Homo sapiens: one gene and its partners. The protein of the gene in region 1 interacts with the protein of each later gene in a pairwise test. Each region holds a gene or a part of one and is shown in the gene's direction. Other genes may lie near its edges. The genes, in order: TOX2, HCK, NDUFAB1 and LGALS4.

The links.
Region 2: the proteins of TOX2 (region 1) and HCK interact in binary tests that used the Homo sapiens proteins (3 or more experiments, as listed by UniProt).
Region 3: the proteins of TOX2 (region 1) and NDUFAB1 interact in binary tests that used the Homo sapiens proteins (3 or more experiments, as listed by UniProt).
Region 4: the proteins of TOX2 (region 1) and LGALS4 interact in binary tests that used the Homo sapiens proteins (3 or more experiments, as listed by UniProt).

What each region holds. Positions count from the first base shown.
Region 1 is NC_000020.11:44,064,822-44,070,118, forward strand, and holds the end of TOX2 (TOX high mobility group box family member 2), read left to right. Parts: coding exon 1-36; intron 37-890; coding exon 891-1,286; intron 1,287-1,908; coding exon 1,909-2,036; intron 2,037-3,828; coding exon 3,829-3,865; 3' UTR 3,866-4,795; downstream 4,796-5,297. UniProt on the Homo sapiens protein: Putative transcriptional activator involved in the hypothalamo-pituitary-gonadal system.
Region 2 is NC_000020.11:32,097,222-32,102,368, forward strand, and holds the end of HCK (tyrosine-protein kinase HCK), read left to right. Parts: intron 1-1,782; coding exon 1,783-1,914; intron 1,915-4,095; coding exon 4,096-4,298; 3' UTR 4,299-4,635; downstream 4,636-5,147. UniProt on the Homo sapiens protein: Non-receptor tyrosine-protein kinase found in hematopoietic cells that transmits signals from cell surface receptors and plays an important role in the regulation of innate immune responses, including neutrophil, monocyte, macrophage and mast cell functions, phagocytosis, cell survival and proliferation, cell adhesion and migration.
Region 3 is NC_000016.10:23,586,286-23,593,317, reverse strand, and holds part of NDUFAB1 (acyl carrier protein, mitochondrial precursor), read left to right. Parts: intron 1-2,167; coding exon of another isoform or gene 2,168-2,225; intron 2,226-5,998; coding exon 5,999-6,121; intron 6,122-7,032. UniProt on the Homo sapiens protein: Carrier of the growing fatty acid chain in fatty acid biosynthesis.
Region 4 is NC_000019.10:38,809,930-38,817,944, reverse strand, and holds the start of LGALS4 (galectin-4), read left to right. Parts: upstream 1-4,999; 5' UTR 5,000-5,058; coding exon 5,059-5,103; intron 5,104-5,425; coding exon 5,426-5,514; intron 5,515-8,015. Other genes in the region: ECH1 (delta(3,5)-Delta(2,4)-dienoyl-CoA isomerase, mitochondrial precursor), read left to right, coding at 370-494, 581-629, 816-880, 1,422-1,492, 1,590-1,661, 1,938-2,088, 2,228-2,332. UniProt on the Homo sapiens protein: Galectin that binds lactose and a related range of sugars. May be involved in the assembly of adherens junctions.

The sequences.
Region 1 (5,297 bases):
GCCCTGGCAGCCTACCGGGCTAGCCTCGTCTCCAAGGTAACACCCGGAATCTCCAGGCACAGCCCTGATCAGAGTGGGGCCACTTGAGGAATGGAGCAAGAACTGGGGCCCGTGGGAAGGGCCGGCACCCCAGGTCTTAGAAAGAATGGCTCAGACCTACATGGTCATGTCTGCAGGGCACCTACAGCATGCCAGGCTCATTCTGGGCACTTTACATGCATTTCATTGGCTTCTTCCAACAAGAACCCAGCACCCAGAGGGGTTGAGCAACTTGCCTGAAAAGATCCAGTTTGTTAAAGTGGCCGCACTAGGATTCAAACCCAGTTTTGCCAGTTTTATGTGGCCTTCACTTCTGACCGCTGATGGGGCTTGGGACACGCTACCCCAAAATATGGCACCTCCTCACCACACCGTCGGCCTCCTCTGTCAACACCAGCAACGTAGGAAGCTAAGTGTGGCTGCGGATGCGTGGCCCAAGTGGAGGTGGGTGTTGTTCCTGGTACAGAAGAGATGGCATCCAAACTGGTCTATAACAGGCCAAGTAAAAGGTGGTTCAAAGTCAAGGGAAAAACATCTACAAAGGCACAGAGGTTGGAAGGAGCATGATTAGAGCTGGCTCAGTGGGATGGTGCTTGTCTCACTGGCCAGGCTGAGGAGCATGGATTCCCCCAAGGGCAGGGGAGCCCCCCAAAGATAAAAGCAGTAGGTGACTGGATGGTCAGAGCCAAGGGGACTAAGGACCCTGTGCTATCTCTGGTTAGTCCAAGCTCTCTCCCAAGACAGCCAGCCAGCAGCCGTGTCAGTGGGTTGCAGAGCCTCCTGGCCTCACAGCCCATGTTCTGGCTCATCCCTCTTCTGTTCTCCAGTGACTGATATCTGTCTCCTTCCAGAGCTCCCCAGATCAAGGTGAGACCAAGAGCACTCAGGCAAACCCACCAGCCAAAATGCTCCCACCCAAGCAGCCCATGTATGCCATGCCAGGCCTGGCCTCCTTCCTGACGCCGTCGGACCTGCAGGCCTTCCGCAGTGGGGCCTCCCCTGCCAGCCTCGCCCGGACGCTGGGCTCCAAGTCTCTGCTGCCAGGCCTCAGTGCGTCCCCGCCGCCGCCACCCTCCTTCCCGCTCAGCCCCACACTGCACCAGCAGCTGTCACTGCCCCCTCACGCCCAGGGCGCCCTCCTCAGTCCACCTGTTAGCATGTCCCCAGCCCCCCAGCCCCCTGTCCTGCCCACCCCCATGGCACTCCAGGTGCAGCTGGCGATGAGCCCCTCACCTCCAGGGCCACAGGTAAGCAGGGAAGAGCAGAACAGCCCTTCTGTGACCGTGTGGGGAGGGGAAGCGGCTTTGCCCTTTCAAACCCTGGCCCTGCCACTCACCAGTGATATAACCTCAGCCTTGGCACCTGACCTCTCTGAGCCTCAGTTACCACATCTAGGAAGTGGGTCTCGCACACCTTACCTGAGATGTGCTGGCTGCAGTGAACAGTTCACGAGTTGCCAGACTGACTCTTAGGATACTCCAGTCCCCCCTTCCTGCATCCTCAGCCCTAGCCCTGGCCCTTCCCAAAGCCTTCGAGACCTTACCCCCGCTAATTGTTCCACAGAGATTGCTACGAGGTTCACATGGCCCTTAGAGGTCATTGGGTTCAGTAATTCCATTTTACAGATCGAGAAACTGAGGCCCAGAAAGGGAAAGGCCCTGAAAGCCAAGTCCTTCAGCCCCTGATTCAGCCAAGACAAGGGTTGAACATTTTGAAAGGTGCTCTACTGGGAGCAAGGCAGCAGCCCTGGAGGCAGCATCTCTTTGGTGTGGACACCCTTGGACACATGGGCTCTCACCCCGGGAGGCCTGGGACAGTCTGCCCCCTCATCTCTCCTTGGCTCATGGCCTCCTCCTTCCCACTCTGTAGGACTTCCCGCACATCTCTGAGTTCCCCAGCAGCTCGGGATCCTGCTCACCTGGCCCATCCAACCCCACCAGCAGCGGGGACTGGGACAGCAGCTACCCCAGTGGGGAGTGTGGCATCAGCACCTGCAGGTTAGTCCTCGCCCGTCCCTGCCTTTGTCCTGCCAGCCAGGGAGAGTGGGAACAGGATGGCCAGGGATGGGAGAATGGCCAAGGGCAACGTGGACAGGGGAGGACCCTGCAGTCACTGTCAGCCCTGCTGAGGGGATCGATATCTCAGATGACACCGCAGAGCCAGGCCCCGGAAGGACTCTGCTGGCCTGATGCTGAGGCCTGCTTGGGAAACTGACTAGTCTTCAGTCTTGCTGCTTCTTCCTTGCTCCTGTTTTTTTCACAAGTGCTTCCACGTGACATTCACAGATGAGTCCTGCATCTTAGGCCAGTTCCCTAGAAGCAGAGCCTGAGGCAGCAGGGATTGGGTGCCTTTGGGGATGCACTGGGGAAAGCTTGCAGGAGAAGGGGGTGAGGGAGGCAGGACAGGGTGGGGGAAGGAGCTGAGGGGGGATGTGGCCTCAGCTGAAGACTTGCTTCTGCCTCATCCCATGGGAGCCCTGGAGCATGAACGGTGCTAGAGTGGCTCCCACCTGGAGGTCAGGGAACTGGCTTTTTGAACCCTTCATCAGTCAGCCCTTGGCTGTGGGCTGCCCCGGGGTGAGTGTAGCCCACTGGGCAGGGCAGCTCCCAAGACTAGAACAGCTAAGAATGCAGGACAGGGGACCTCGGTGGGACACGGTGGGAGAAGGGACCCACTGTCTATCCCAAGGAATTACAGACACCTTAGAGACCCCTTCTCCCTGCACCCCAGTGTCCTCCCTAGTCCTCCTGTGGGCCTCCTGTCTCAGGCCTCTGTTCCTATCCTGCACTCCACCTTTCAAACCCATGCTAACACCTCCCTCTAGAAAGTCTTCCTGGATCCACGCCACCCCAACTCTGGGGAAGAGTGACCTTTCAACAACCGCAGCCAGCAGGAGAGGGAGAGTGCAGTGAGGAGGGACACTTGCTCCTTAACCCGCCAGCCAGGTTCCCATTCCCTTGGCAAAAATGAGTCCCGCAGCCACACCTGGGGGACGTAGTGCCAAGCAGCTGTCCCAGCGATAGCGCCACAACCTGGAAGGCACAGCGCACTTGTCGGGTGGCCACCTTGCTGCTGAGAAACGCTGCCCCCAGCCCTAGCCTCGGCCTCCCAGCACACGGCTGGTTCCTCTGCTGACCCACCAGCGCCCTTGGACACTGAACAAGTGACCAGCGCGCATGCCCCATTTCTGACATGCCTGAAGTGAGATTCTACATGGGTGGGTGGACTCAGCTCAGCAAGAATCCCTTCCCTGCACCCCAAGCAGGTGCAGACCCTCCTACCCCAGCCCTTTCCTGTCCCTAAGTTTCCTTCTCAAAAGTCAGAATACTTAGGGTATGTAGGGGAGTGTCACACAATGTCCAAGCCTCCTGAGGCTTGCCCATCACATCCAGCATGGAGGTCAGACCCCAGCAGGGCCGTATTTTAAAAACATAAAAAGCACCTGTCCTCCCTTAATTCAGTTTGAGATTTACAAATTCCTGTGATTAAAAACCCATGTGAGAGCAATGGTGACATCGGCGTGCGCCTCGATGAAAGACAGACACGCTACTGCCCTTTCACCCAGAGCTGAGGACCGGGTGGTCCCCTGCTGGGTTTCCGGGAGGGGTTTGGTTCTGCTTGGTGTAGAGGTGGGTGGGGGTGGGACTTGCAGATGCAAGTCCCTCATTCAGCCACAGAGGGGCAGCTGAATCCAGGGGTGGGGGTGGGGCGTACAGTGCAGGGGTCCTGGTGCTCCCCTGGCCCGGAGAGGTACCCAACAGCTTTGACAGCCCCTCCTCTCTCTCACAGCCTGCTCCCCAGGGACAAATCGCTCTACCTCACCTAATCCCGCCTCCCTACCATCCCTGAGGCTCGCTGGAAGGCACTGCTCAGAGCCTGAAGGGCTGACAGCAGAAAAGAGGCCCTGGCCAGAGGCAGGGTGGCCCATCGGAGAGAGCAGTGACACACCCATTGCCCGGGGGCTGAGTCTCTTCCTCAACCTCCCACCAGACTCTGCAGAGGCAGCCCACTGCCCACCACCAGCCCAAAGAACCTGCAGGAACCTTCCGCCCGCTGACCTGCTTGCTCCAGGGTAACTGTGGACCCTGTCCTCGCCCTGCGCACGGTACCCTATGTCTGGACACCCGGCCCCAGCTCCAGCCCCAGCCCAGGTGGGCCGCCCCTGGCGGGGTCGCTTACCAACGGACACCCACCCCAGATGCATGGGCCAGAGGGCCGGCCCCCGGCATAGATGTGCACATCGGTTTTCCAGTGTGAACAAAAGATTACGAAACCTAGAAACTGTTGGTTCCGTGTAAGTAGTTGACTACGTGTTTTAGAACTGTGCTGAAGACATCTGTAAGACTATTTTGTGGGGGAAAAAAGTAGTTTCCTTTAAGGTAAAAAGCATTTTATATGATCCTTAGCACATTTTTAAGTTTTATCTTAAGGGAGACGCGCACAAAAGCGGCTGCCAAACCGTTTCGTCATCCTCACAGCAAGGACCGGACGCTTGCTAGCCACCCCGGAGCACTGCTCTCCTTTTAATCATGTATTCATCTATTTTAAATTGCCGGCGACGACTTTTGTCTATTTATGAAGAAACCTTGAGAACGAAGTTACAGCTTATCCTACCGTGTGTGTGGTTTTGGGGTTTCGTTTGGGTTTGGGTTCTTGACGTCGTTTGCAGCTGTTTCCTGGCCCTGGCGAGTGTCTGTCTTGGTGCCCAGTGCTTCTCTCAAATCTCTTTATAATAAAACTTCTGAAAAGCTGAAAACAAGTCTGTGTCTCCTTGCCCTTGGTGAGCCAGGGTTGAACCCCCTAAAGTGGCATAGAGCCCCTCGGGCCAGACGGACACGGGTCAAAGTCTTGCCTGACCTTTACCAGCCCATGTGGGTTTGTGTGTGGGTGATGGGACCACTCTGACCTCAGTCTTGCCCTCTAAGGGGGTAACAGTGGTCAGACCCGTAGGGCTCTTGCGACGATGAGAAGGGGTGTGGGCAAGAACGCCGCCACACAGGAACTTGCATCAGCTGGTGACAGTGGCGAGCCCTTCCTCTGGAGGATGGGGCCACCCAGGCTTGTGGAGGTGAGCAGTGGGAATCCAGGGAGGAGGCCAAGGGGTTTTTCAAACCTGAGTGTAGGAAGCATCCCAGACAGGGAATTCTTTAAACCAGATTTCCCAGCAGATGTTAGATGGTGATACTAACAACGACAGCAAACAACAACAAAAGGCAAATAATAGTTGACTGTTTTAACTACATCTGGAAAAATACCAA
Region 2 (5,147 bases), about 12 Mb from region 1:
GTGAGCCAAGATCATGTCACTGCACTCCAGCCTGTGTAACAGAGCAAGACTTTGTCTCAAAAAAGTAAATAAATAGGGCCGGGCACGTTGGCTCATGCCTGTAATTCCAGCACTTTGGGAGGCTGAGGTGGGAGGATCACGAGGTCAGGAGATCGAGACCATCCTGGCTAACACGGTGAAACCCCATCTCTACTAAAAATACAAAAAATTAGCCAGGCGTGGTGGCGGGCACCTGTAGTCCCAGCTACTTGGGAGACTGAGGCAGGAGAATGGCGTGAAAGCCGGGAGGCGGAACTTGCAGTGAGCTGAGATGACACCACTGCACTCCAGCCTGGGCAAACAGAGCGAGACCCTGTCTCAAAACATAAATAAATAAATAAATAAATAAATGTAATGACTAAAGGAATAAAAGTAGAATGTATAATTTCTAAACCAGAAGAAGATAAGCAGGAAATCAAGAAAAGTCTGTAGATCCAAAGGAGGAAGGGAGAAAACATATACACACACACACACTCTCACACACACAAACACACACATAGAACATTTTCAAAACTTGACCATGTACTCAGTCATAAAGCAGGTCTCAACAAATTCCAAAGAACATATATTCTATAGACCATGTTCACCAACCATGATATAATTAAACTAAACACTTTTTAAAAAAGGATAACTATGCCAGGTGCGGTGGCTCACACCTATAATCCCAGTGCTTTAGGAGGCCAAGATGGGAGGATCACTTGAGCCCAGGAGTTTTGAGAACAGGCTGGGTAACATAATAAAACACTGTCTCTACAAATTTTTCTATTTTTTTATATTTTATTTTATTTTATTTTATTTTATTTTTGAGACGGAGTCTGACTCTATCATCCAGGCTGGAGTGCAGTGGTGTGATCTCGGTTCACTGCAACCTCCATCCCCTGGGTTCAAGTGATTCTCCTGTCTCAGCCTGTAGCTGGAACTACAGGCACCTGCCACCATGCCCAGCTAATTTTGTATTTTTAGTAGAGATGGAGTTGGCCAGGCTGGTCTCGAATTCCTGACCTCAGGTGATCCTCCTCCTTGGTCTCCCAAAGTGCTGGGATTACAGGCACAAGCCACCATACCTGGCCAAAAAAATTTTTTTAATTAGCTTGGCATAATGGGGCACACCTGTAACCCCAGGGGCTTGAGAGGCTGAGGCAGGAGGATAGCTTGAGGTCAGGAGTTCGAGGCTTCAGTGAACTATGATTGTGCCACTGCGCTCCAGCCTGGGCACTCTGTCTCTAAAAGAAAAAAAAAATGAAAAGGCTAACTAAACCCATGTCAGACTAGGTGGGAGGAAGGGCGGGTAAAGGGAGAGACACATAGTGACTGGTGGGAACCTCATGGGCTGAGAGCCAGAATCCTCCCTTTTCCCATCGCCCAGGATGAGAGGACTGAGGCATCAGCTGCAACCTGGACTCAAGGCCCCCTGAAGTCCTTCTGTCCCCAAAGACCTGTGACCTCTGGGATTCCACTCTTCGGAGTTGCAGTTAACTGGGGTATCAGCTGAATCAACGAGGAGGATTCTAGAGTGAACTTCCACACCATACCCCAGGCCCCTAAGCCCACTCCTCCTTGTTTAGCCATCTGTCCTCAGGATGGATGTCCCTTGCTTCCACAGGGAGGCCACGTATCAGGGAAATTGCAGGTCTGCAGGGGCAGATGTTGGCAGCTCTTGCCCTTGCCTGTTCCCCCACCTTAGCAGAGCCAACCCTCACTACTCCCCAGCCTTCCCCGACTCTGCTCTGTTCAACCCTGCAGGGGCCAAGTTCCCCATCAAGTGGACAGCTCCTGAAGCCATCAACTTTGGCTCCTTCACCATCAAGTCAGACGTCTGGTCCTTTGGTATCCTGCTGATGGAGATCGTCACCTACGGCCGGATCCCTTACCCAGGTAGGGAAGGGGCATCAGCTCAGGGCTGCTACCAGGGCCCAGTCTGGCAATGGGCTCATCTCAACAACATGTCCATTCAAACTGAGTTCTTGATCCTCACCCCCAACCTTCCCTCACCTTTCCTGTCTTAGTTAAAGGCACCTCCATCCATCTAATGTCTTAAGCCTGAAATCTGGGGGCTTCCTTGGCCCTTCCTTCTCTCTCACTCCTATGACTTTTTTTTTTTTTTTTTTTTTTTTTGAGACGGAGTCTCCCTCTGTCACCCAGGCTGGAGTGCAGTGACGTGATCTCGGCTCACTGCAACCTCCGCCTCCCAGGTTCAAGCGATTCTCCTGCCTCAGCCTCCTGAGTAACTGGGATTACAAGCATCCACCACCATGCCTGGCTAATTTTTGTATTTTTAGTAGAGACGGGGTTTCACCATGTTGGCCAGGCTGGTCTCGAACTGCTGACCTTAGGTGATGCGCCTGCCTCGGCCTCCCAAAGTGCTGGGATTACAGGCGTGAGCCACTGTGCCTGGCCTCACCCCTATGACATCTGAGCAGTCACAGGGTTTTGGCCACTCGACTCCAAAACATATCCCAAGTCTCACCACTTTGAACCCCACAGTCTCCACTGCATCCAGGCCAGCGTCATCTCCCATAGATGGTGCAGCGGCATCCTCATCAGTCTTACTGCTTTCTCCCTCCTCGTCCTACAGCCTATTCTCCACTTGCAGCCAGAAGGATAATTCTAAACTTTAAATCAGATCTTGTCCTTTCTCCACCTTTTTTTTTTTTTTTAAGACAAGGTCTCACTCTGTCACTGAGGCTGTAGTGCAGTGGTGTAATCATAGCTCATGGCAGCCTCGACTTCCTAGGCTCAAATGATCCTCCCGCTTCAGCCTCCCGAGTATCTGGGACCATAGGCACATGCCACCATGTCTGGCTATTTTTTATTTTTTTAATTTTTTTGTAGAGACTTGGTCTCACTACGTTGTGCAGCCTGGTCTCTAACTTCCAGGCTCAAACGATCCTCCAGCCTTGGCCTCCCAAAATGCTGGGATTACAGACACACACCACCATGCCCAGCTAATTCTTTAAATTTTTTGAGAGACAAGGTATTGCTATGTTGCCGGGCTGGTGATTTCCATTTTTAAGCGATGCTTTCAGCATGGAGAGTGAATGGGAGGGAAAGGGAACAGGGTGGCAGCCAGTGAGGAGGCCACAGCAGTGGCCCAGGCAGAGGTGATGATGGTCTGGACAGGGTGGTGGCATTCGTGACTGGCATACGTTGATGAACTGGTGCTACGTTTCAAAAGGAGAAAAGATCTGACTTGCTGACTTAGGAGGTGAGAGAGAGAGAATAAAGGATGATTACCCTGGCTTTGCACCACAGGGTGGGTAATGGTCTAGGGATAGAAATTGGAGAGCTCTGTTTTAGCTCTGCTAAATTTGAGTTGACTTAAATATAGAGACATCCAAGTAAAGGAAGCACTTGAGTTCATGAGTTTGGAGTTTGAGACTAATAATATAAAATTGGGGATCACAGACATTGAATGGCTATTCTTATGAATAGCTAATAGAAACTTGAACTGAACAAAAAAATGGTCCCACCCATAGGTTAACATTGAATCTGGCCACCTGAATGTTTTGTCTTGAGGGTGCACTAGTCAAAACCAGGCAACACACAATAGACGCTGAATCCATTAGGATGTGTTCCACAGCAAGCAACAAAATAACAGACAAAGAGTAACTGAAATAGAAGCAATCTATTACTCCCAATCTTCCATTGGTGACTGGTTAGTTCAGCAACTCAGCAGCTGTCAGGACTCTGGGTTCCTGTCTCTATGATGGTCTTCTCCATGTTGTCAGCTCCAAGTATCATAAGTATCTCACAGTGTTCAAAGGAAGAGATGAAGGGTGCGTTCTCCAAAGACTCTCCTCTAAGCGGGAGGAAAAACCTTTCCATCACTTTCCCAGCAGACCTCCCCATCAGCTCCCATTGGCCCAAACTGGGTCCCAGGCCCATGTCCTAGCTGCAAGTGAAGCTGAGGGTGGAAGTCTGTCTTTCACAGTGGAAGGGGCTCAGCTTGCAAGGTGAGGTGGGGAGTGATGCCTGCTGGGGAGGCCACAGGGCCTGCCACCCCTGGGCTCTCATTTCCCAACTGCTTCCGTTTCTAATTCCACGGCTCCTTTTCAGGGATGTCAAACCCTGAAGTGATCCGAGCTCTGGAGCGTGGATACCGGATGCCTCGCCCAGAGAACTGCCCAGAGGAGCTCTACAACATCATGATGCGCTGCTGGAAAAACCGTCCGGAGGAGCGGCCGACCTTCGAATACATCCAGAGTGTGCTGGATGACTTCTACACGGCCACAGAGAGCCAGTACCAACAGCAGCCATGATAGGGAGGACCAGGGCAGGGCCAGGGGGTGCCCAGGTGGTGGCTGCAAGGTGGCTCCAGCACCATCCGCCAGGGCCCACACCCCCTTCCTACTCCCAGACACCCACCCTCGCTTCAGCCACAGTTTCCTCATCTGTCCAGTGGGTAGGTTGGACTGGAAAATCTCTTTTTGACTCTTGCAATCCACAATCTGACATTCTCAGGAAGCCCCCAAGTTGATATTTCTATTTCCTGGAATGGTTGGATTTTAGTTACAGCTGTGATTTGGAAGGGAAACTTTCAAAATAGTGAAATGAATATTTAAATAAAAGATATAAATGCCAAAGTCTTTACCAAAACGTTGGTTTTCCTGTCCTTCCAATTCCTGAATATCTATTTGCCTTCTTGCTGTATGACAAGTCAGAAATGGTGAAGGACTCTCCCGGGGACCAGAAATACAAAGACAAGTGGGGTTCAGACTGGGTGCTGTGGCTCCCACCTATAATACCAGTGCTTTGGGAGACCGAGGAGCGGGGGATTGCTTGAGCCCAGGAGGTCGAGGCCACAGTGAGCTATGATCGTGCCACTGCACTCTAGCCTGAGCGACACAGTGAGACCCTGTTTAAAAAAAAAAAAAAAAGATGAAGAAGAAGAAAGAAAGGAAAGGAAAGAAAATTGGGGTTCAATGCTTGAGGTTTTCTAACTGCCCTAAAATAGTTACTGGCTATATTAGTTTCCTCTTGCTCCTGTAACAAATTACCACATATCTGGTAGCTTAAGACAACAAAACTGCATAACATTACTTGGCCGGGCATAATGGCTCATGCCTATAGTTCCAGCATTTTGGGAGACTGAGGTGGGTGATCACTTG
Region 3 (7,032 bases), on another chromosome or scaffold:
TTGGTTGGTTTGTCCTCCTACCTTGTTGGGACACTTTGCCTTTCAGGCTGGAGTGCAGTGGCATGATCGTGGCTCACTGCAGCCTTGACCTCCTGGACTCAAATGGTCCTCCTGCCTCAGCTTCCTGAGTAGCTGGGACTACAGGCATGAGCCACCACCCCTAATTTTTTGATGTCTGTCTTCTTTTTAGAGACGGAATCTCCTTATGTTGCCTAGGCTAGTTGTGAACTCTTGGGCTCAAGCAATCCTCCTGCCTCAGCCTCCCAAGTGCTGGGATTACAGGCATGAGCCATCACACCTGGTGTGCCTAACCCTTAAATGTTGGTGGGCTCCCGAGTTCTCTTACCACACATGCTCCCTGGACTCTTCACTCCTGGTTTCTGTTATTGCTGTATATCCCAGACCTCCGCCTCCAGTCCTTGTTCATCTCATTTGGACCATTGCTCATGCTACCTATTCCCTGCTGTGAAATTTCCTCTCCTCAAATCCATCCACTATGCCAACTTCAGAGCAACTAGTCACTCATTTACACCCTTTTTCCCAAAAGGAGCTAAGGCAGTTTTCCTGGGTATAAAAATACCAGATGATATAAAATAGAAGGTAAGGAAAAAACAAAAAAACAAAAACCAAGGGCAATGGCCTAAAATGCAGCCTGGAAGTCTTATACTTGATCCAGGTAGGCCCCGAATCTACACTGTCTAGCAGATGGAGCACAAAGATAATTTCCAGCAGTTCTATGGGGCATGGTACGCAGATGAAGACAGCACTTGTACAAAAAAAAGCTAGCTATTCCAGGACTGGGACCAGGACCAGACAAAGTCCCAGTCCCTTCCCATGGCCCTTAAGGCTCTGCAGACCTGGGCCCTCCCTCTTAGCCTCCAAGCCTGTCATCTGTGTACCATCTCCCAACATGAGCTGATGTCTTCTCACATAGACACAGGCACTGCACTTTCATGACTTTTTTTTTTTTTTTTTTTCCAGACAAGGTCTCTGTCACTTAGGCTGGAGTGCAGTGGCATGATCATATATCAGTGCAGCTTCAAACTCCTGGGCTCAAGCAATCCTTCTGCCTCAGTCCCTTGACTAGCTGGGATAACTGGCCTGCGCTACCACGCCTGACCTCATTTCGTTTTCTTGACCTGTTCTTCCCTCTCCTTGAATTATCAGTCTCAGCTCTTTTCCTCACCAAATCCAAGTCTGGCATCCTCCTTTCCGGCCACTCAAGGACTGAGTGACAACTTTTGTTATTGCATCAGCCTACAGATACTTCTGTCATGGTGCTTGCCATATTTTTATTTCAACTAAAATGATCTGTGGATTGGTCTTTTCCATTAGAGTGTAAGCTTCTTTTGGGGGAAGGTTGTGTCTTATTCATCTTTGCATTTCCAGCCCATTGCACAGTTCTTGGCACACAGGTAAAGTTCCCAGGCTTCTGAGACAGTCGTGTAAATAAAGGCAAGGCATTGTGAAACAGGTGTGTGTAGTGCAAAAGCAAAAAGAGATACTTGACCAATCTCTCAGTGAACGTGATCTTGAAGGCCTGTGCAGAGGCCAGGAAGAGCCTGGCACTTACCTCCTTGTGGTTGACTCTTAGGGTGTCTGGAAGGGAACATTGTTGGGGGGAAGAGAGTGAGCATATCATGAAGGGAGCTGTATGCTGCAGCGAGGAATTGTGGGTATTCTCTGCAAAGGTCATAGGGAGTGAACATGAAACAGGGCTTATTGAAGGAATAAGCCCCAGGTGGCGGAGAAGGAACAGAGGTCTGTAAGCAGGAGTTTTGGAGACAGGTCAGGAGTTCATTTCCAAACTGTTGAGTTTGAGAGGTCTGGGCTGCCTGTGTAGAGTGGACCAGTCGGCAGTTTGTAGAGACGGCCTTTAAAGCCCTCTCCTTAGCCTCCTCTGAGTTTGCCTCAGGCAGAAGTGAGCCCCAGTGGAGTACCGGGATTCTGATGGAACCTCATCTGTTTGAATTACTAGCCCAGAGGGTCATCACTCTTTACCTGCAAACAGTACCTTCTCTGATGTCTGGGAGAGGTGGTTTATTTCCCATATACTTGTTAAGTGTAGATCTTGGGGAAGAACAACTAACACCAGAAACATCACATGTTGGCTGTTGGGGAGGTGCTTGTCCATTTTGTATCCCTTTTATTTTTTCCCAATCAACAGAGATCCAGTTAGAAGGAGCAGCAAGACCTTCCAGGAGGCCATGCTGGAAGGACATGGGGTGAGGAGGATACCTAACCTTCCCTTGCCTCAGTTTCTCATCTGTAAAAAGGAGGGTGATAGTATCATGGATCTCACCAGAATACTGGAGAGCTGAAGAAAGATGATGTGTGTAAAGTGCAATATCATAGCCTGAGCTGATAAGAAATTAATGGAGGCCGGGACGTGGTGGCTTATGCATGTAATCCCAGCACTTTGAGAGGCTGAGGTGAGTGGATCACTTGAGACCAGGAGTTCAGGACCAGCCTGGCCAACATGGTAAAACCTCATCTCCACTAAAAATACAGAAATTAGCCAGGCATGGTGGTGCACGCCTGTAATCCCAGCTACTTGGGAGGCAGAGGCATAAGAATCACTTGAACCTGGGAGGCAGAAGTTGTGGTGAGCCAAGGTCACAACACTGCACTCCAGCCTGGGCAACACAGTGAGACTCTGTCTGAAAAAAAAAAAAAAAAGAGACCAGAGGCAGGAGCATGAGAGGGTAGTAGGATCAAGTATTTTGGGGCTACGCTACAGCCAAGGTATCAAACTAGCTGCTGCTGGTCATTGTTCTCAGGATCCTACTAAATAACCCTAAATAGCACTTACTGTGTTAAGTGCCAGCCAATGTCCAAGCCTTTACTTCATCTCACTGATGCTTCACAACAGTCCTGTGAGTGTGGTACTGTTGTTTATCCCCATTTTACAGATGAGGAAACTGAGATGTAGAAGGTTAAGTAACCCACCCAAGGCCAAACAACTAGTGAGAGCCAGCACCATGGTGCAGGCATAGGTGGTCTAGTTTCAGCGTCTGAGCTCTTGCCCACTAACTTACTGCCTCACGCTGATCCTGATGCAGCACCCACTCTAGATTGGCATGTGGCCTCCAGTCAGAGACTCGTTTAATTTAATCACATGGTGCCCACCTGGCCCTTGTAGGTACTTGCTGGAGCTGCTGAGGACAATGCTGACAACCTAGTTGGCCTCATGGGTAGTTGTGTACGAACATAGAATATACCCTCACCAGGGGTCTTGCTTTGTTGCCCAGGTTGGTCTGGAACTCCTGGGCTCAAGCGATCCTTCCACTTTGGCCTCCCAAAGTGTTGGGATTACAGGCGTGAGCCACCACACCTGGCATCGTACCATTTCTTTTTTTTTTTTTTTTTTTTTTTCTTTTTGGAGACAGAGTCTCACCCTGCCGCCCAGGCTGGAGTGTAGAGCCATGATCTCAGTTCACTGCAACCTCTGCCTCCTAGGTTCAAGTGATCCTCCCACTTCAGCCTCCTGATTAGCTGGGATTATAGGCACACGCCACGATGCCCGGCTAATTTTTGGACTTTCAGTAGAGATGGAGGTTTCACTGTGTTGGGCAGGCTGGTCTTAAACTCCTGACCTCAAGAGATCCGCCCACCTTGGCCTCCCAAAGTGCTGGGATTACAGGCGTGAGCCACCACACCTGGCCTCGTACCATTTCTTGATAAGCACACAGCCTCTGTTAGATCCCTCCAACTGAAATTTCTTTTCTGCCATTGCCATATTACCTCATTTCTTCTCCCCCTTTCTCTTTATTCCTTTCTTCTCCATTTTATTTGTGACTTGGAAACCTATTTGAGTCATTGTTAAGTAGGCCGGTCATGTGCCTGTATAAAAGGTCTCCTTAACCCATGTATAATACGAAAGGAGACTAGACATTTAGACAAAGAAACATGCTCTAAAACTCTTGAAAGTACTCAGAAAGGCTCGTTAGAATATCTATCATACTCTCCAACTCATCTCTTTAGTTTGCTGATTAAACCTGATTTTTTTTTTTTTTTTCTTGAGACGGAATCTCACTCTGTCACCCATGCTGGAGTGTAAATGGCATGATCTTGGCTCACTGCAACCTCCGACTCCCAAGTTCAAGCGATTCTTCTGCTTCAGCCTCCTGAGTAGATGGGATTACAGGCACATGTTACCACGCCCAGCTAACTTATATTTTTGGTAGAGACGGGGTTTCTCCATGTTGGTCAGGCTAGTGTCGAACTCCTGACCTCGTGATCCGCCTGCTTCGGCTTCCCAAAGTGTGGCAATTACAGGTGTGAGCCACTGCGCCCAGCCTAAACCTGATTTTAATAACTGACTTCTTTTTCTTTTCTTTTTTGAGACAGAGTCTCGCTCTGTGGCCCAAGGTGGAGTGCAGTGGCACAGTCTCGGCTCACTGCAACCTCTGTCTGGGTTCAAGCAATTCTCATGCCTCAGCTACCTGAATAGCTGGGATTACAGGCACACACCACCACGCCCAGCTAATTTTTGTATTTTTAGTAGAGACGAGGCTTCACCATGTTGGCCAGGCTGGTCTCGAACTCCTGGCCTCAAGTGATTGGCTCACCTCGGCCTCCCAAAGTGCTGGGATTACAGGTGTGAGACACACATCGGCCCAATACCTGTTCTTTATGCAAGATGAATGTTTCTTCTACAGAGGTTATACTGGTTTGGTTCTCTGGGCAGTATTTATTATGATTTTTCATGGACCTTTGTGAGTTTCAGGGACCTGAGCCCTAACAAGCAGCCCCACTTTCTATAGGGAAATGCCTGAAGAACGCCAAGCCTCGGACTTAAAATCAACTTCAGGAGGTAAACAAACCAATTTAGATTAGGGATTTCTTTCTTTTTCTTTTTTTTGAGACGGAGTCTTGCTTTGTCGCCCAGGCTGGAATGCAATGGCGCAGGCTCGGCTCACTGCAACCTCTCCTCCCACATTCAAGCGATTCTCCTTCCTCAGTCTCCTGAGTAGCTGGGATTACAGGCGCCCACCACCACGCCTGGCTAATTTTTGTATTTTTAGTAGAGACGGGGTTTCACCATGTTGGCCAGGCTGGTCTCGAACTCCTGACCTCAGGTGATCTGCTCACCGTGGCCTCCCAAAGTGTTGTGATTATAGGCGTGAGCCACCACGACTAGCCAGATTAGGGATTTCAGTAGTGAGCAAAACTGCCAGATACCCTGTTTTGTTTTCTCTGATTCTGCGTCGTACCTTCCACAGCATTAAACCCCCTGACCTGTAATTGCAGCTCATTCCACATTTGTTGAATGAAATCTGGTCAATACCCTAATACCTAAACATTGAGCCGACTAATACCAGAGATACGTGAGGTATTGCTCTAACATGGCACAGGCCAGAAGGGCTCATGGTTTGGCTGGTGGCCATGAGGCAAGCCTCGCTGGAAGGGAAACAGATTGGAATGTAGTGACTGTAAGCTCCCTCATCCCCTCTTTGGGTGGGAGGCCAGCTTCCTTTGTCCTGGCTGAGATCAGGGAGATAACTGCTGGAACCAAACTAGACCTTTCTGGTGTATGGTCCTCAATTTGAATTGCCTTTGGGTTTACCATGACAGCTCTTTCCTTTTGGGTTATTTTGACTTGGGTCAGCCTATTAAAGGTGGCAGCACCCTGTAGAGGCCTCGGGATGCTGAAGATGCCATGAGAAGACACAGGCATTCTGCAGACGCTAGACAATTTTAGTGGCAGTTAGTGTCGCAGAGCAGTATGAATGTCCAGAGCCTGAGGGTTGAAGCCAGGAGGCAGAGGGGCCGGTCCTGACTCCCAGGAAGGAGGCCTGAGATGCTGCTGAACTGTTGGGGCTTCTGCGATTACCCAGTCCTGCAACTTAGTGTGTCCTGGTGGCCACAATGAGAATCAGATGCTGTGGGTTCTCTAAAGCCCCGAAAGTTCTGTGAAAGTTACCTATAGGCTTGTGCATTGATTTAGAGGTATTTTCCATTCAATGACAGTGTTTCCTTCCTGCCGTCGCTCTAGGTTCCTGGTAGAGTTACACAGTTGTGCCGCCAGTATAGCGACATGCCTCCTTTGACGTTAGAGGGCATCCAGGACCGTGTTCTTTACGTATTGAAACTCTATGACAAGATTGACCCAGAGAAGGTAACTGATGGTGGTTTGAATTTTTTTCTTTAAATATAGAGTATTTAATTACATGCTAGAAAATGCAAAGGGAAAGATACTCAGTAAAAATCTCCCTGGCTCCCAGACACCCAGGCCCATTCTGGGAGATAGCCAGCGCTACCAGTTTCATGTATGTTTCCAAAGGTACTCAATGCATATGTTAAAGAAGTATACACACGTGTGTATATTATATGTATGTATCTCTCACCCTTTTTAAAAAACACAACTGGCCGGGCACTGTGGCTCATGCCTGTAATCCCAGCACTTTGGGAGGCCGAGGCGGGCGGATCACCTGAGGTCGGGAATTCAAGACCAGCCTGACTAACATGTAGAAACTTCATCTCTACTAAAAATACAAAATTAGCCGGGCATGGTGGCACATACCTGTAATCCCAGCTACTCGGGAGGCTGAGGCAGCAGAATCACTTGAACCCGGGAGGTGGAGGTTGCAGTGAGCCGAGATAGCGTGATTGCAGTCCAGCCTAGGCAACAAGAGTGAAACTCCATCTCAAAAATAATAATAAATAATAAAAACACAAGTGGGGCCGGGCGTGGTAGCTCACGCCTGTAATCCCAGCACTTTGGGAGGCCGAGGCGAGTGGATCATGAGGTCAGGAAATGAAGAGCAGCCTGGCCAAGATGGTGAAACCCCATCTCTACTAAAAATACACAAATTAGACAGGCGTGGTGGCAGACACCTGTAATCCCAGCCACTCGGGAGGATGAGGCAGAGAATTGCTTGAACCCGGGAGGGAGAGGGTGCAGTGAGCCGAGATCATGCCACTGCACACTGCAGCCTGGATGACAGGGTGAAACTCCATCTAACAACGAAAAAAAATTGAATCTGTTGTGTAGGTAAGGCAGTTTTTTTTTTGATTTGGGTTTTTGAA
Region 4 (8,015 bases), on another chromosome or scaffold:
GTCTCTAAAAACATTAATGAGTTAATTTAAATAGTTCATTACTCACTACTCACCAGCCAGTGTGACCCCCTTGGGCAAGTGCTTAACCTCTCTGTGCCTTAGTTTACCCATTGGTAACACAAATAGTAATAGGACCTAGCTGGTACGGTTGCTGTGAGGATTCTGTGAGTAATGACTCCACAAATATTAGCTTTTATTTCCTTCCCACCCAACATGCAATCAATCCCTCACCAAGTCCTGTGTGAGTTGTTTTTTTTCCGCCTTGGTGGTTTGGGGGTTCGAACCTGCTGTGCCTGGGTTCTGATCCCTGGTTGAGTCAATGGGTGGGGCCTGGGAGCCTGGATGAGCTCCATCATGCCTTCTCACCAGGTATTGACCTGATGGACATGGCTTCGGACATCCTGCAGCCCAAAGGAGATGATGTGGCCCGGATCAGCTGGTACCTCCGTGACATCATCACTCGATACCAGGAGACCTTCAACGTCATCGAGAGGGTGACTCTAGGGGTCTGGAGGGGATCTTTCTCCATACGCGCCTCCCCTGGGCCAGCCCTGACCCCACTCTTCCTGTTCCCTCTCAGTGCCCCAAGCCCGTGATTGCTGCCGTCCATGGGGGCTGCATTGGCGGAGGTGAGTCTGCGGCTATCCTCCTGCTCGGGTGCTCCCCAGGTGGGGCTGCTGCTCCGATGCCGCGGCCACTGGCATCCAGCCTCAGCTCTGTCATGGGCCAGACTGTGTCCCAAGAGGCAGCCCCACCTCCCGGGAGCCAGGGTTGGTTCTGGTGGTCATTCAGCATCCCTGGCCTCTACCTCCTAGGTGTGGACCTTGTCACCGCCTGTGACATCCGGTACTGTGCCCAGGATGCTTTCTTCCAGGTGAAGGTGAGTCATCCTCCCGAGCTCCTGCTTAGAGCTGGGCAGTGGGGTGAGGTTGGGGGGCCTGGAGTGAGCCTCGAGGGCTTCATGGAAGAGTCGGAGTTGAACCCGACAAAGTAAGACTTGCCCATAGAGGAAGTCAAGAGGTGAAGTTGTGAGTGGGTAAGGTATGAGGTGGGGTTGAGGCTGGCAGGTGTCAGAGGCAGAGATTGCTCCTGGGGCCATACTGGTGAGGGTGGGAGGCAGGATGGAGCCGGGGGATGCAGTAAAGGGGTCTCAGGTAGGGTGAGGAGGGTTCCTCTCTCACAGATGGAGCTGCCCTGAGGGAATGGGAGGGTGCATGAGTGGGAAGGTGGGCTCTATTCTAGGTTGAAGGAACTTGCCTGAGTCAAGAAGCTGCCTGGGCAATGGAATGGGACTTTGGAGGAAGTCACTGGGGTGAAGGTGGGGCGGGACTCTCCAGTAGACATGAAATTTCATGGACGTTGACATTGCGAGGGGCACAGTATTGGGCAGAAACCAAACACTGACCCGATTCCTCCCCCAGGAGGTGGACGTGGGTTTGGCTGCCGATGTAGGAACACTGCAGCGCCTGCCCAAGGTCATCGGGAACCAGAGGTGGGTGCAGGGGGTGTGGGGGTGTGGGCAGGAGACCCCAGAGCATCTCCCAGCCCCGGGGTGGCAGCCGCCTCCTGATGCACGCTTGCCTTTGCAGCCTGGTCAACGAGCTGGCCTTCACCGCCCGCAAGATGATGGCTGACGAGGCCCTGGGCAGTGGGCTGGTCAGGTAGGGCCATGGCCGTGGTAGCTCAGTGCTGGGGGCAGCCAGGCCTGGAGGGTTGGAGGCCTCTCCGGGTCCCCTTGTCTCCTCGCTCTAGAATTCCTAGTGGCATCCTTTCTTGGTGAGCTCATTTCTTTATTGTGGGGTCAGCCCCCTGCTCTGATTGGGCTGTTTCTCTGGGGTCTTGGGCCTTCCTCTGTGAGTGGCCACTTCTTCATCTGCGGGAGGCTGGAGGAGAGAGCCCTTCCCAGCCCACCCGGTCCCTGATCTCTTTCACTGCAGCCGGGTGTTCCCAGACAAAGAGGTCATGCTGGATGCTGCCTTAGCGCTGGCGGCCGAGATTTCCAGCAAGAGCCCCGTGGCGGTGCAGAGCACCAAGGTCAACCTGCTGTATTCCCGCGACCATTCGGTGGCCGAGAGCCTCAACTACGTGGTAAGGTGCACGCTCCGACCAATCACAGCCCTCCTCTAACCCCAGGCGACCAACCAGGGTGCAGGGTGCTCTCATGCTTTATCCTGATTGGCCCCTGCTAATCTCTCTCCTCGTTCTCTCTCAACACCCTCGGTACCAGGCGTCCTGGAACATGAGCATGCTGCAGACCCAAGACCTCGTGAAGTCGGTCCAGGCCACGACTGAGAACAAGGAACTGAAAACCGTCACCTTCTCCAAGCTCTGAGAGCCCTCGCGTCCCAGGCCCCAGCCAGGGGGCCGGCCTTGTCCCGCCTCATCCACAGAAAGGGAGGATGGGCGATGACAGTTGTTTCTATGCCTTCTGACCCAGTTTCCCAGTTTATAACTTTATGACAATGAGTTTCTCAAGCCCAAGGCCTTATCTTCACCCCACAAACAATAAAGCAAAGTAAAGAACCTGGTGCCCTTCTTGGATAGAGGAGAGGTGGGAGGGGCTGGGATGCACCTAGGGGCTCCAGAGACTGCAGTCCTGAAGGCTGGGGCTAGAGGTTGGATGCATGGGAATGGGTGGCATGGAGGTGATGGCCATTCAGACTGGCAGCGGGCAGGCGAGGGGCACAAGGAATTCCGGGGCGGAGGGAGTGAGCAAAAGTCGCTGGGGTCCCTCTGGGTTGCAAGGCTTCCTGGTCTCCCTGCCTGCCCTGGGGTTGAGGGTGGCGTTCGTGCCCTGCCTGGCACCTCTCACTGCACAGCACATGGGATCTGATGCTGGCGTCTCACACCTGTAATCCCAGCACTTTTGGAGGCTGACGCAGGTGGATTGCCTGAGCTCAGGAGTTTGCAACCAGCCTAGTCAACATGTTGAAACCCAGTCTCTACTAAAAATACAAAAATTAGCTAGGTGTGGTGGCAGGTGCCTCTAGTCCCAGCTACTCGGGAGGCTGAGGCAGGAGAATCCTTGAACCCAGGAGGTGAGTTTGCAGTGAGCTGAGATCATGCTGCTGCAGTCCAGCCTGGGTGACAGAGTGAGACTCTGTCTCAAAAAAAGAAAAAACAAAACAAAAAAGGACTTTGGGGTTTCTGGCCGGGTGCAGTGGCTCATGCCTGTAATTCCAGCACTTTGGGAGGTTGAGGCAGGTGGATCACTTGAGGTCAGGAGTTTGAGACCAGCCTGGCCAACATGGCAAAACCTGGTCTCTACTAAAAATACAAAAATTAGCCAGGCGTGGAGTAAGCCTGTAATCCCAGCTATTCAGAAGGCTGAGGCAGGAGAATCCCTTGAACCTGGGAGGTGGAGGTTGCAGTGAGCTGAGATGGTGCCACTGCACTGCAGCCTGGGTGATAGAGCAAGACTCTGTCTCAAAAATGAGCAAACAAAACTTTGGGATTTTTTATCCATATATCATCCCAATCTTCCGGATTTATGTTTGGAATGACTGCAAGAGACCAAGCATTAAGTTAATGACTTCTATATGCTATGTCCTGTTCTGAGCATTTATTATCTTAATGATCAAGGACTCTATGAAGTTGATACTATTATGATTATTATTATTATGACTATTATTGTTGCTATTTTTAGAGACGGACTCTTAGTCTGTCACCCAGGCTGGAGTGCAGTGGCATGATCATAGCTCACTGTAACCTTAACTCCTGGGTTCAAGCGATCCTCCTGCCTCAGCCTCTGAGTAGCTAGGAATACAGATGTGTGCTACCATGCCCAGCTAATTTTTATTTTATTTTTGTAGAGATGGGGGTCTCACTATGTTGCCCAGGCTGGTCTTGAACTCCTGGGCTCAAGCAGTCCTCCTGCTTCAGCTTCCCAAATTGCTGGGATTGTAGGCACAAGCCACCACACCCAGCCTAAGGTTGATACTACTCTTTTCTTTATTTATTTATTTTTCTGAGTGGCAGTTGGACCCACAGCTAGAACTTATTTGGCAGATTAATAACATACAGGCATTACTGGATCACAAATTCATTTTTAAAATATTTTGATAGCTATTCAATACTTGTTTCCTCTCTTATGAATTCCTTTTTTTTTTTTTTTTTTTTTGAAACAGAGTCTCCATCTGTCATCCAAGCTGGAGTGCAGTGGCGTGACCTTGGCTCACTGCACTCTCCTCCACTCAGGTTCAAGTGATTCTCCTGCCTCAGCCTCCAAGTAGATGGGATTATAGGCACCCACCACCATGCCTGGCTAATTTTTGTATTTTTAGTAGAGACTGGGATTTTGCCAGGCTGGTCTCGAACTCCTGCCCTCAGGTGATCCATCCACCTCGGCCAGTCAAAGTGCTGGGATTACAGGCATGAGCCACTGCACCCAGCCGATACTACTATATCCCCATTTTACAGATGAGCACATGGGCAAATTGAGGGTAAGGCACTGACCCATGATCATACAGCTGAGAAGTGGCAAAGGCAGGATTTGAACCTAGAACCTCTGGCTCCACACACTAGTAATCTAAACCACTCTCCCTACAATACAACATACGTGGTAAAGATGTGTGGTGGGCACGCAATCAACGTAGGTCCCTTCACAGTTGCTGGGAGAGGCAGGAATTTGCAGTTCCTCCGCGTTCTCCTCCTCCGCTGCCCACCTGTCCTGGGTCATTCCTGCAGCCTGCCCTGCCCTGCCTGGTCTCACCCTCCCTCTGCCAACAGAAGTCTGGGCAGGGTTTTATGGGCTCTGATAAGGCCCTGGCAGGGCCGAAGTTCATGAGCACTTCCTCTTTGCAGGAGGGCGTAGGGGAGGGGACCCAGGTGATTTGGGTCCTGGCTGGTCACCAGGGAAGCTGGCAAGGGAAGGGAGACTAGGGTGCGCTCTAGGAGAAGCCGACAGCCTGAGAGTCCCAGAAGAGGAGCCCTGTGGACCCTCCCCTGCCAGCCACTCCCTTACCCTGGGTATAAGAGCCACCACCGCCTGCCATCCGCCACCATCTCCCACTCCTGCAGCTCTTCTCACAGGACCAGCCACTAGCGCAGCCTCGAGCGATGGCCTATGTCCCCGCACCGGGCTACCAGCCCACCTACAACCCGGTGAGATGCCAGCTCAGGCCCCACTCCGCCCGCAGCTCCGTCCATAAGCCCTCACACCAATTTTCCCCACTCTGATCCTGGGGGGCCCCATCTGACTCTGTGGTCTGATTTACCCAAAGCTGACCCCGACCCTCGATTTACTCCTACCCTGACCTCAGGCTGTCTGTGTCCACGTCTAACTGTTGGCCCTCGTCATCTTCAACCTGGTCCTCCCCCATGGTTTCCTCTCTCCTGCTTAAGGGACTGGGGGGCTTTTCTGGGAGGGGTAAAGGCTGCAACAGGCAGATGGCTTGTGAGTCCCCTCACCAGGCCTCTTCTCCAGACGCTGCCTTACTACCAGCCCATCCCGGGCGGGCTCAACGTGGGAATGTCTGTTTACATCCAAGGAGTGGCCAGCGAGCACATGAAGCGGTAAGACCCTCCCCAAGCCAGGCCGGGCTGGCAGGGGACTTCCAACTGGGTGCTCTGGGCCTGGCTGTTGGGGGCTTTCTGCCCTTACCCCACCCTGGTGGAGAGGGGACTCTTTTTCTGCCCCACCCAATAGCCAGAGATGAATCTGGGGCAGATCAGGAGTGGGGACGTGGGGGCCAGAAGGTTCAGGGAGGGCTCACCGTGAGAGGCAGTCCCTGAGTTGGACATTAGACTGAAGCTGATGGGTGCAATGGCAGGAATTCAGATCACAGGCTCAGAGCCGGGTCCCCGAGTTAAAATCCCAGCTCTGCCACTCCCCAGCTCTGTGTTGGTGAAAGAGTGAAAGTGACTATACCTCTCTGTGCTTCATTTTCTTTTCTTTTCTGTTTTTGTTTTTTTTGTTTTTTTTTTTGTTTTGAGATGGAGTTTTGCTCTTGTCGCCCAGGCTGGAGTGCAATGGCATGATCTTGGCTCACTGCAACCTCTGTCTCCCAGGTTCAAGCGATTCTCCTGCCTCAGCCTCTTGAGTAGCTGGGATTACAGGCATGTGCCAGCACACTGGCTAATTTTTGTATTTTTAGTAGAGATGGGGTTTCACCATGTTGGTCAGGCTGGTCTCGAACTCCTGACCTCAAGTGATCCTCCCATCTCGGCCTCCCAAAGTGCTGGGATTACAGGCGTGAGCCACTGCGCCTGGCCCAGTCTTAGCTTTTTAAAAAGGGCCTTAACACGTTGATAATGATTGGCCTCATAGGACTTTTTTTTTCCTTAGAGATAGGGTCTTGCTCTGTTGCCCAAGCTGGAGTGCAGTGGCACAATATTATAGCTCACTTCGGCCTCCAACTCCTGGGCTAAAGTGATCCTCCTACCTCATCTTTCCAAGCAGATGGGACTACAGACATGTGCCACCATGCCCAACTAATTTAATTTTTAATTTTTATTTATTATTATTATTTGTTTTGTAGAGACAAAGTCTTGTTATGTTGCCCAGGCTGGTCTTGAACTCCTGTGCTCAAGCGATCCTCTAGCCTCGGCCTCCTAAAGTGCTGGGAGGATCAGGCACTGGTATGAGCCACTCTGCCCAGCCTGTTGTTTATTTATTTATTGTTTACTTCTTCACTGAGTGCCTATTCTGTGTCCTGGCACTAGGGATGGAGGAGTGAACAGGACAGAGACCCCTGCCCTCGTGGAGCTGATGTCCTAGTAGGGGAAACATAAAAAATAAGTCCAGGCCGGGCGCGGTAGCTCAGGCCTGTAATCCCAGCACTTTAGGAGGCCTAGGCAGGCAGATCACCTGAGATCGGGAGTTCAAGACCAGCCTGACCAAAATGGAGAAACCCTGTCTCTACTAAAAATACAAAATTACCAGGGCGTGGTGGCGCATGCCTGTAATCCCAGCTACTCAGGAGGCTGAGGCAGGAGAATCACTTGAACCTGGGAAGTGGAGGTTTCGGTGAGCCGAGATCGTGCCATTGCACTACAGCCTGGGCAACAAGAGTGAGACTCTGTCTCAAAAAAAAAAAAAAAAAAAGTCAAATATGTAAGATGTCAGATGATATTAAGTGCTATGAAGAAAATGAGGAGGGAAGGGAGATGGGGAGTGTATGTGCGGACAGAGGTTCCCTTTAAATTGTCCCCTTAAATAGGGTGGCCTGGCCGGGCATGGTGGCTTACGCCTGTAATCCCAGCACTTTGGGTGGCTAAGCCAGGCAGATCACCTGAGGTCAGGAGCTCGAGACTAGCCTGGCCAAAATGGCAAAATCGCATCTGGCTGGGCGTGGTGGCTCACGTCTGTAATCCCAGCACTTTGGGAGGCAGAGACGGGCGGATCACGAGGTCAGGAGATCGAGACCATCCTGGCTAACACAGTGAAACCCCGTCTCTACTAAAAATACAAAAAATTAGCTGGGCATGGTGGCGGGTGCCTGTAGTCCCAGCTACTCGGGAGGCTGAGGCAGGAGAATGGCGTGAAACCAGGAGGCGGAGCTTGCAGTGAGCCAAGATTGCGCCACTGCACTCCAGCCTGGGCGAAAGAGCGAGACTCCATCTCAAAAAAAAAAAAAAAAAAAAAAAAAAGGCGAAATCTCATCTCTGCTGAAAATACAAAATTAGCCAGGCATGGTGACAGGTGCCTGTAATCCCAGCTACTTGAGAGCCTGATGTGGGAGAATCACTTGAATCCTGAAGGCAGAGTTTGCAGTGAGCTGAGATCGCATCACTGCACTCCAGCCTAGGTGACAAAGGGAGACTGTCTCAAAAAAATTAAAAAGGTGGCCAGAGAAGGCCTGCCTGGGAAGGGAACATATCAGCAAAGAACAGAAGGAACGGAGAGAGGGATCCCCAGGGACAGCTGAGGGAAGGGCCTTCCAGGCAGAGGGAACAGCCAGTGCAAAGGCCCTGAGACAGGCCTGTCCTGGGGAGTAATTTCAAGGATGCTGGTGTGCCCAGGGGTGCGGAATATGATGCGTCATGGGTGTACACAGGGACCCTCTGGCTGCATG